2 separate regions of the Homo sapiens genome follow, and region 2 is linked to region 1. The links come from fine-mapping of genetic effects on gene expression. A gene starts in region 1. The other region holds a variant in brackets. All regions are shown on one strand. Distances are between the middles of the regions. Region 1 holds the start of ADH4 (alcohol dehydrogenase 4 (class II), pi polypeptide). Region 2 overlaps LOC100507053 (a long non-coding RNA gene).

Region 1 (5,381 bases):
GAATGTCCCATTCACTCTCATGTACAGACTCTTAATGTGGGGGTCCTCAAGGAAAATATAAGCCTGGTCAGCTTGGGAAAAATGGGGAAATTGTCCAAACTTGCCATCAGTGATCTCACTCCATTCCATGCACTCTCTTCTCCCTGTGACCTACTCCTGTCCCTTCCTCTGGATACCCAGGACCCTTCGGCTGCCTAGGGCAGCACGTCAGGTTTTTTCTTCTGTCTTGTTTTCGATCAAATTGTCTATCTTCCTTTTAATAACACTTTCAAATAATTAGCAATTGGAAAGCAAAAAGAAAACCTAACTAATTCAAATCCAAAGTGAATTCCTTTGTCTGATTCTTAGGGTAAATGATTAATGTTAAGATCAATTAAATTTTAAGCCCATTATTTGAAAATTACTAAAATAATGGATGATTTATTCCTTTTTGGGATAATGCCTGTTTTTGACTGAATCTAAAAATACAGCTTCCCTGTACTAGAAACTCCAAGGCCTCTGAATCATAGCACAGAGGATTGACCTGACAGAAGCCAGGTCTCCACTTGGGGCCCTGTCTGTTCCCACCCAAGGAAAGTCTCCACTTACCTGAATGCGAACTTCATGAGCCTTGGGGGGAGCTACTTCAACCTCTTCAATGCAAAGGGGCTTGCCTGCTTCCCAGGCGATGGCTGCTTTGCATTTAATAACCTGAAAGAGAGAAAGAAAAGGAAGAGGGAGATAGAGATAGAGATTTTGACAGGGTTGGGGGTAGGAGAGAGGAGATCATGAGAAAAAATTAGAATATATTGATACTGTAATTTCATGACAAAGAGTTAAAGAGTTTGTAGCTGGATCTTATAGATATTATTTTAAAGACAAGGGATCTTAAAGAAAAATAAGAAGTTAAATTCTACATTATAGTCATTACATTTTTTATTTCTTGAAAAAAAAACAGGTGTATTAAAGTTTACCTTGATATAATGTCTCAAGTTTTTCCCTCTATAACAGAGAGAATAGATTTATGGAGTTTGAATAAGGTAGATGGCCTATAAAAATCTATTGAGTGAACTGTTTGAAATCACCTCTGAATTACCTGAGTCAGATAATTGCTGGAGAATAGATGTGTTTTACATCTCTGCAACTCGAAGTGTGGTCCTCGGACAAGCATTTATTCACATCACTTGGGAATTTGTTAGAGATGAAAGCCCTGCCTCAAATCCACTAAATCAAAATCTGCATTTGAACAATATCCCCAGAGAATTCATTAAAAGTCTGAGAAATGAGGCTTACATCATTATTAAATTTATCTGTAGGATATAAATTAAATAAAAATTTCATCTAATTGTAAGAATTTGGGTAAAGATGAATGAACAGAAATTAAATATTTAGGATTCTATAACCCCAATTTTTTCTAGCCTCAAATTATATTTTTAATTTCAAATATAAGCAACATTGAAAGAAAGTAGAAAGAAACAAACCTATAATCTTCTGTTCTAACACTACTATGCTTACATTTGGTATACTTTTCCCAAAGTCTTTGACCACATTAATGTATATTTTTCAATAGTTACATAATTTTGAATTATGTTTTTGAATATTATTTATTTTGTTTCAAATGAAGTATATATTAATTAACAGGAAGTTTCAAAATGCCAAGGCCTATCAAGTTTTTAAAGACAAAAAATAGAATAAGATTCATCTGTAAGCTCATCACCCACTTTATGCTTTTGATGCAGATTCTTCGAGTATCCCCAAATAAGATACATTGTCCATAGTATTTTGTAATATACTTTTTCTACTATTAATATACTGTGAACATTTTCCCATATTCTCCTGCAACATTATTTGTAACATATGCATATTATATTTTATGGTTACAGCACAGTTACTTAAATCTCTCTTCTTTTGGCCATTTAAATAATATTAATATTAACTGAACACCCTTCTAATAAACATTTTGGCAATCCACAGTTAATTTCCCTAGAATAAATTCCTGGCATAGGGGTCACTCATATCCTTTTGATCAACTGTAAGTCACTGCTTCCTGAGTTCCTGAAGGAAGCTCCTTTTAGCCAAACATACAAGGACACAGAAAAGCACAAACTGAACAAAGATACAGCTTACTTGCTTACTTTGCCCTTGGTGCCCATTTTTCTTTGGGAAACTGTGTTGGAAGTTTCTTTCTGAGTTAAGAAAGCTTCAAACTCCTACCCAGGGAGTTCCGTGTCCTATAATGAGCTGTCTTTGAATAAATACCATTCATGTTGCTTAATTCTCCAATCACTTCCTTTTCTCCTTTGTTGCTGTAATTCACAGCCCTGCCGGCCTCTTACCACATCATTTGTACTATTGGACTTCAGCTGCAAACCTCATTGCTCCCAGTGAGCTCCAAGATTTTTTAAATTCTTTTTTCTTTTATTGAAAAATATAAAATAATAGAGAAAAGCCCATTAAACATATAAAGATGAATTAACAAATAATTATGAAGTAAAGGAAATTTCTACTCCTCAGAATCGCCCATTTAACTTACCTGTTCTTCTCCTTCACAACCCTGATAATCACTTCCTTGCATATTTAGTGGTTTACTACCTATTTAAGCTTCTCTATCCAATAGTTTAATCTAGCAAAGCCTTTTTATGAATGGAATCATAGTGTATGTATTGTTTCATGTCTTTTTTCTCCCCTCTACTCTATGTGAGAATCATTCACATTGCCTGTGGCTGTAGCTTATTTTCATTACTCTAGAATATTCCAGTGTATGAATTGAACATAATTTATTCATCCATTTTCCTTTTTGCTGTTTTTTTTCCTCTTTGCTTATGATGAATTAGTGGTTACATACAAATTCTTTTCATGTACTTGGTTGCACATATGCTTGAGTTGCCTTAAAGAAAATTCAGAGCTGATATTCAGCCAGTACCCACTATGAAGGCCATGCCAATTATCAAAATATTGAAGTATTTTTATTCAGCTTGGTAAAAAGTCACTATCCCAAATCCCCAAGTTCCCCTTCAACTCTGTTGCAGCCCTGGGGGCCCCTATTTAGTCACTGCTAAGGAGCTACTCTTTTTGTCCCACCTGATGTGTGAGTCCATCAACCAGCCCTGATGGTTCTGGGTCTCTGGCTGTCCCCCTAAAACAGAGTAGTCCCTGGAACCCCAGTAGATAAATACCTAGTGTCCATCTGACCTCCTGTGGCTGTGGCCTCCAGTGCTGTGGGTCAGAACTCCCCTGGAGTCACATGTATATGGCCATTTGTGAGAAATGGAGTTTCCTTTCTGTACTGGTTGTTAAATATTTTTTGACTAGGAGTGGAATTAAAGTCTTCAACTTTAATAGGCAAGGCCAAGGAATTTCACAGAATGGCTTCACCTACCAGCAGCAGTGTATGAGAGTCCTCGTTGCTCCACATCCTCACCCATGCTTGGAATTGGCAGACTTTAAAAATCTTCTTAATCTGGTCGTGTGTAAAGATATCTAATTCTGTTTTTAATTTGTATTGATCTGATTATTAATAAGGATAAGCACCAGTCCTGTACTGGAGTCAGCTCATACTGATTTTGTTGTGCTTATTCTATTAACTACTGAGAGATGTTTAGAAATCATTATGATTACTCTAATTATCATTACACGTTGTATGTGTGTACTGAAGTATCATAGGTACTTCACAAATATGTACAATTCTTTCTGTACATATTAAAATTAAAAATAAAAATGAATAAATAACAATAAAATTATTTTAAATAATAACTAAAAATAAAAAGAAACAAAAATACATCATTATTATGAGTTTGTTAATTTCTGAGAGTACTTTTTTTTACTTTACATATCTTGAAGCTTGATATTACGTGCATGCAAGTATTCTGTGTTCCATGTGTTTTAAGAAATTTAATGACATTTTTACTATCTTTCCCTGGCAGTGTGTTTTCATTATCTACATTATTTCTTTTAATAGTCCCCTAGTATTCCACCATCTCTTAAATATTTCAGTTGTTCTATTAAACTTTTAGAAAGCGTAATTTATACTCGTTTCCACTTTTTCACTAACCACATTTCACTCAACTTGTTTGATTTCCATCTCCTTGTTCTATTGAAACTGTTTTCCCCAATGCAATGCATGAGTTTTTTTTAGTTTGCTCTGATTGGAACATCTACTGTGGCCAACTAACCCCTTATATTTCCTTAAGGTGTGTCTCCAGGTTCCTATCTTGCATCCCCACTCTTTCTATTTGGATATGGTCTTTTCCCTTTTTGAATCTCTGTAGCACTCGTGTTTGCATGACTCTTCAGGCTTATACATAAATAGGCAAATGAAGCAAAGTAAGTTTTGCTTCATTTTGTCTCATGTTCTGTTACTTGTGCCTTTTTTGACAACCTGTTTCCTACCTGTAGCCTCCTTAACTGTAGAGATTGTATTTTATTTACATTTCATATCCTGAAGAGTATACTTCAGAGCCCCGAAAAAATACTAGGTGATTACTAAATGCTGGTCAAATTGAATAATGACCTTGGAAACACAATTGGAATTAACACTCTTTTCTGAATGCTTGATATCTGTCTTTTCTTGGTCTTTCCTTCTGTGCTGCACTTTGATAAACTTCTTTGAAGGTAAAGATGGTCTTTTCCTTTCTATAAATATCAAAGGATCTGCTGAGAATTGTTTTGAGAGGAGAAGGGAGAAGAGGTTTCAGAATAGTAAATCCTGGGCATTTGAATGTGAGGGCTTCTCCTAATGGAAAAAAAGAAAATCATGGATTCTTCTTATGAGAATGGTTTTACCTTTTGTGACTTTTCATTTTTGGGCTTCTAGATGTTTTCAAAATTCCCAATGTTATATATACCTTTAGAAATATAATTTCTCTCCCATTATATTAGCATAAATAATAATATTTTATAATATTCCATCATTCTCAACTTGAATACCCAAATAGCACATTTGAAACCCAAGATGTTTCAAATTGAACTCATTGGGTTTCTGCACCAACCACTCCTTTTTTTTGTTTTTTTGTTTTTTTTTTGAGATGGAGTCTTGCTCTGTCACCCAGGCTGGAGTGCAGTGGTGTTATTTCGGCTCATTGCAAGCTGCGCCTCCTGGGTTCACACCATTCTCCTGCCTCAGCCTCCCGAGTAGCTGGGACTACAGGTGCCCGCCACCATGCCCAGCTTTTTTTTTTTTTTTTTTGTATTTTTAGTAGAGACGGGGTTTCACCTTGTGTTAGCCAGGATGGCCTTGATCTCCTGACCTCGTGATCTGCCTGCCTCGGCCTCCCAAAGTGCTGGGATTACAGGCGTGAGCCACTGTGCCCAGCCTCTTTTCTCCTTATTTTTAAAATAATTGTTTATTTTCTACATCTAATGACATCTCTCCTAGATTCTAAAACTTTCCTTTTCATGTTAAA
Region 2 (5,381 bases), 100 kb after region 1:
TTCTTCTAAGGTTTTTATGGTTTTAGGTTTTACATTTAAGTATTAAATTCATCTCAAGTTAATTTTTGTATAAGGTGTAAGTAAGGGGTCCAGTTTCAGTTTTCTGCATATGGCTAGCCAGTTTTTTCAGCACCCTTTATTAAATAGGGAATCCTTTCCCCATTGCTTGTTTTTGTCAGGTTTGTTGATGATCAGATGGTTGTAGATGTGTGGTGTTATTTCTGAGGTCTCTTTTCTGTTCCATTGGTCTATATGTCTGTTTTGGTACCAGTACCATGCTGTTTTGGTTGCTGTAGCCTTGTAGTATAGTTCGAAGTCAGGTAGCATGATGCCTCCAGCTTTGTTCTTTGTGCTTAGGATTGTCTTGGCTATACAGACTCTTTTGTGGTTCCATATAAAATTTAAGGTAGTTTTTCTAATTCTGTGAAGAAAGTCAGTGGAGCTTGATGGGAATAGCATTGAATCTATATATTACTTTGGGCAGTATGACCATTTTCATGATATTGATTCTTCCTATCCATGAGCACAGAATGTTTTTCTATTTGTTTGTGTATTCTCCTATTTCCTTGAGCAGTGATTTGTAGTTCTCCTTGAAGAGGTTCTTCACATCCCCTTTAAGTTGTATTCATAGGTATTTTATTCTGTTTGTAGCAATTGTGAATGGGAGTTCACCCATGATTTGGCTCTTTGTTTGTCTGATATTGATGTATAGGAATGCTTGTGATTTTTGCACAATGATTTTGTATCCAGAAACTTTGCTGAAGTTGCTTATCAGCTTAAGGAGGTTTTGGGCTGAGATGATGGGGCTTTCTAAATATACAATCATGTCATCTGCAAACAGAGACAATTTGACTTCCTTTCTTCCTATTTGAATACATTTTATTTCTTTCTCTTGCCTGATTGCCCTGGCCAGAACTTCCAATACTATGTTAAATAGGAGTGGTGAGAGAGGGCATCCTTGTCCTATGCTGAATTTCAAAGGGAATGCTTCCAGCTTTTGCCCATTCAGTATGATATTGGCTGTGGGTTTGTCATAAATATCTCCTATTTTTTGAGATATATTGTGTTAATATCTAGTTTTTTGAGTGTTTTTAGCATGAAGCGGTGTTGAATTTTATCGAAAGTCTTTTCTGCATCTATTGAGATAATCATGTGGTTTTTGTCATTGGTTCTGTTTATGTGATGGATTACGTTTGTTGATTGGTGTATGTTGAACCAGACTTGCATCCCAGGGATGAAGCTGACTTGATTGTGGTAGATAAGCCTTTTGATGTGTTGCTGGATTTGGTTTGCCAGTATTTTATTGAAGATTTTCACATCGATATTCATCAGGGATATTGGCCTGATATTTTCTTTTTTTTGTTGTTGTGTTTCTGCCAGGTTTTGGTATCAGGATGATGCTGGCCTCATAAGATGAGTTATGGAGGACTCCCTCTTTTTCTATTGTTTGGAATAGTTTTAGAAGGAATGGTATAAGCTTCTCTTTGTACCTCTGGTAGAATTAGGCTGTGAATCTATCTGGACCTGGGTTTTTTTTTGGTTGGTAGAGTATTAATTCCTGCCTCAATTTCTGAAGTTGTTATTGGTCTATTCAGGGATTCAACTTCTTCCTGGTTTAGTGTTTAGGGAGTGTATGTATCCAGGAATGTATCCATTTCTTCCAGGTTTTCTAGTTTATTTGTGTGGTGGTGTTTATATATTCTCTGATGGTAGTTTCTATTTCTGTGGGATCAGTGGTGATTTTCCCTTTATCATTTTTTATCGTGTCTATTGATTCTTCTCTCTTTTCTTCTTTATTAGTCTGGCTGGTGGTCTATCTATTTTGTTGATCTTTTCAAAAAACCAACTCCTGGATTCATTGATTTTTGGAAGGGTTTTTGGTGTCTCTATCTCCTTCAATTCTGCTTTGATCTTAGTTATTTCTTGTCTTCTGCTACGTTTCGAATTTTTTTGCTCTTGCTTCTCTAGTTCTTTTAATTGTGATGATAGGGTGTCATTTTAGATCTTTCCTACTTTCTGCTGTGGGGATTTAGTGCTATAAATTTTCCTCTAAACACTGCTTTAGCTGTATCCCAGAGATTCTGGTATATTGTGTGTTTGCTCTCATTGTTTTTAAAGAACTTATTTATTTCTGCCTTAATTTCATTATTTATCCAGCAGTCATTCAGGAGCAGGTTGTTCAGTTTCCATGTAGTTGTGAGTTCTGAGTGAGTTTCTTAATCCTGAGCTCTAATTTGATTGCACTGTGATCTGAGAGACTGTTATGATTTCTGTTCATTTACATTTGCTGAGGAGTGTTTTACTTCCAATTATGTGGTCAGTTTTAGAATAAGTGCTATGAGGAGCTGAGAAAAACGTATATTTTGTTGTTTTGGGGTGGAGAGTTCTGTAGATGTCTATTAGGTTTGCTTGGTCCAGAGCTGAGTTCAAGTCTGAATATCCTTGTCAATTTTCTGTCTTGTTGATCTGTGTAATATTGATAGTGAGGTGTTAAAATCTCCCAATATTATTGTGTGGGAGTCTAAGTCTCTTTGTAGGTTTGTAAGAACTTGTTTTATGAAACTGGGTGCTCTTATATTGGGTGCATATATATTTAGGATAGTTAGCTCTTCTTGTTGCATTGATC[C/T]GTTTACCATTATGTAATGGCCTTCTTTGTCTTTTTTGATCTTTCTTGTTTTAAAGTCTGTCTTATCGGAGACTAGGATGGCAACCCATGCCTTTTTTGTTTGCTTTCCATTTGCTTGGTAAGTTGTCCTCCATCCCTTTGTTTTGAGCCTATGTCTGTGTTTGCACATGAGATAGGTCTCCTGAATACAGCACACCAATGGGTCTTCACTCTTTATCCAATTTGCCAGTCTGTGTCTTTGAACTGGGAGCATTTAACCTATTTACATTTAAGGTTAATATTATTATGTGTGAGTTTGATCCTGTCATCATGATTCTAGCTGGTTATTTTCCACATTAGTTCATGCAGTTTTGTTCATCTTTATATTTTGGTATGTTTTTACAGTGGCTGGTACCAGTTTTTCCTTTCTATATTTAGTGCTTTCTTCAGGAGTTCTCGTAAGGCAGGCCTGGTGGTGACAAAACCCCTCAGCATTTTCTTGTCTGTAAAGGATTTTATTTTCTTTTGCTTATGAAACTTATTTTGGCTGGATATGAAATTGTGGGTTGAAAATTGTTTTCTTTAAGAATGTTGAATATTGTCCCCCACTCTCTTCTGGCTTCTGCAGAGAGATCTGCTGTTAGTCTGATGGGCTTCCCTTTGTGGGTAACCTGACCTTTCTCTCTGGCTGCCCTTAACATTTTTTCCTTCATTTCAACCTTGGAGAGTCTGATGATTATGTGTCTTGGGGTTGCTCTTCTCGAGGAGTATCTTAGTGGTGTTCTCTGTGTTTCCTGAATTTGAATGTTGGCCAGTCTTGCTAGGTTGGGGAAGTTCTCCTGGATAATATCCTGAAGTGTGTTTTTCAACGTGGTTCCATGCTCCCCTTCACTTTCAGGTGTACCAATCTGTCATAGGTTTGGTCTTTTCACATAGTCCCATATTTCTTGGAGGATTTGTTATTTCCTTTTCCTTCTTTTTTTTTCTCTAATCTTGTCTTCATGCTTTATTTCATTAAGTTGATCTTCAATCTCTGATATCCTTTTTTCTGCTTGATTGATTCAGCTATTGATACTTGTGTATGCTTCACGAAGTTCTCATGCTGTGTTTTTCAGCTCTATTAGGTCATTTCTGTTCTTCTCTAAACTGGTTATTCTAGTGTGCAGTTCCCGTAACCTTTTATCCAGGTTCTTACCTTCCTTTCTTTGGGGCAGAACATGCTTATTTAGCTTGGAGGCGTTTGTTATTACCTACTTTCTGTAGTGTACTTCTGTTCAATTCATCAAACTCATTTTCCATCCAGTTTTGTTCCCTTTCTGGTGAGGAGTTGTGGTCCTTTGGAGGAGAAGAGGCATTCTGGTTTTTGAAATTTTCAGCATTTTTGTGCTTTTTTCCCCTCAGCTTTGTGGATTTATGTACCTTTGATCTTTGATGCTGAGGCACTTTGGATGGGGTTTTTCTGTGGGCATACTTTTCTTTTGATGCTGATGTTTTTGTTTTCTCTTTGTTAGTTTTCCTTCTGTCAGGCCTCTCTGGTGCAGGTCTGCTGGAGTTTGCTGGAGGTCCACTTTAGACACTGTTTGCCTGGATATCACCAGTGGAGGCTGCAGAACAGCAAAGATTGCTGCTTGCTCCTTCCTCTGGAAGATTTGTCCCAGAAGGACACCCACCAGATGCCAGCTGGAGCTCTCCTGTATGAGATGTCTGTCGGCCCCTGCTGGGAGGTGTCTCCTAGTTAGGAGGCACGGGGGTCAGGGACCCATTTAAGGAGTCAGTCTGTTCCTTAGCAGAGCTTGAGCACTGTGCTGGGAGATCTGCTGCTCTCTTCAGAGCCAGTAGGCAGCAATGTTTAAGTCTGCTGAAGCTGCTCCCACAGTTGCCCCTCCCCCCAGCTGCTGTGTCCCAGAGAGATGGGAGTTTTTTCTATAAGCCCCTGACTGGGCCTGCTGCCTTTCTTTCAGAGATGCCCTGCCCATAGAGGTAGTCTGGCTACAGTGGCTTTGCTGTGCTGTGGTGCAGTGGGCTCTGCCCAGTCCGAACTTCCTGGCAGCTTTGTTTACAATGTGAGGGAAAAACCACCTACTCAAGCCTCAGTAATGGCGGACGACCCTCCCCCGACCAAGCTTGAGTGTCCCAGGTTGACTTCAGACTGCTTTCCTGGCAGCAAGAATTTCCAGCCAGTGGATCTTAGCTTGCTGGGCTCCGTGGGAGTGGGACCTGCTAAGCCAGACCACTTGGCTCCCTGGTTTCAGACCCCACGGTTTGTTCCAGGGGAGTGAACGGTTCTGTCTGGCTGGGGTTCCAGGCACCATTGGGTTATGAAAAAAAATCTCCTGCAGCTAGCTCGGTGTCTGCCAAATGGCCACCCAGTTTTGTGCTTGAAACCCAGGGCCCTGGTTGTGTAGGCACCTGAGAAAATCTTCTGGTCTGTGGTTTGCAAAAACCATGGGAAAAGCGTAATGTCTGGGCTGGATAGCACTGTCCCTCATGGCACAGTCCCTCATGGCTTCCCTTGGCTAGGGGAAGGAGTTCTCTGACCCCTTGTGCTTCTCCTTGAGGTGACACCCCACCCTGCTTCTGCTGGCCTTCTGTGGGCTGGACCCACTCTCTAACCAGTCCCAATGAGTTGAACTGGGTACCTCAGTTGGAAATCCAGAAATCACCTGCCTTCTGTGTTTGTCTCGCTGGGAGCTGCAGACGGGAACTGTTCCTATTCGGCCATCTTGCCCAGCTCTCCCCTGCAGTCTATCATTTGAATGTGTTCTGATTTGCTTAA

What was found. PIP is the estimated chance that this variant, and not a neighbour inherited with it, causes the effect.
Region 2: its variant is the best candidate, but not a certain one, in a credible set for the expression of ADH4 in lung (TOPMed, PIP 0.77).

The regions. Positions count from the first base shown.
Region 1 is chr4:99,142,091-99,147,471 of GRCh38, forward strand. ADH4 (alcohol dehydrogenase 4 (class II), pi polypeptide) reads right to left here and starts at 2,207. Exons shown (of 9, transcript NM_000670.5): 1 at 2,115-2,207; 2 at 589-690. The coding sequence starts at 2,132. The region is part of intron 2 of LOC100507053 (a long non-coding RNA gene); the gene reads left to right. RefSeq lists a promoter at 2,179-2,501.
Region 2 is chr4:99,243,329-99,248,709 of GRCh38, forward strand. All of the region lies in intron 4 of LOC100507053 (a long non-coding RNA gene), which reads left to right. Among named protein-coding and RNA genes, the nearest start is that of ADH6, 27 kb to the left of the region's middle. The variant C/T (reference allele first, on the strand shown) is at 2,627.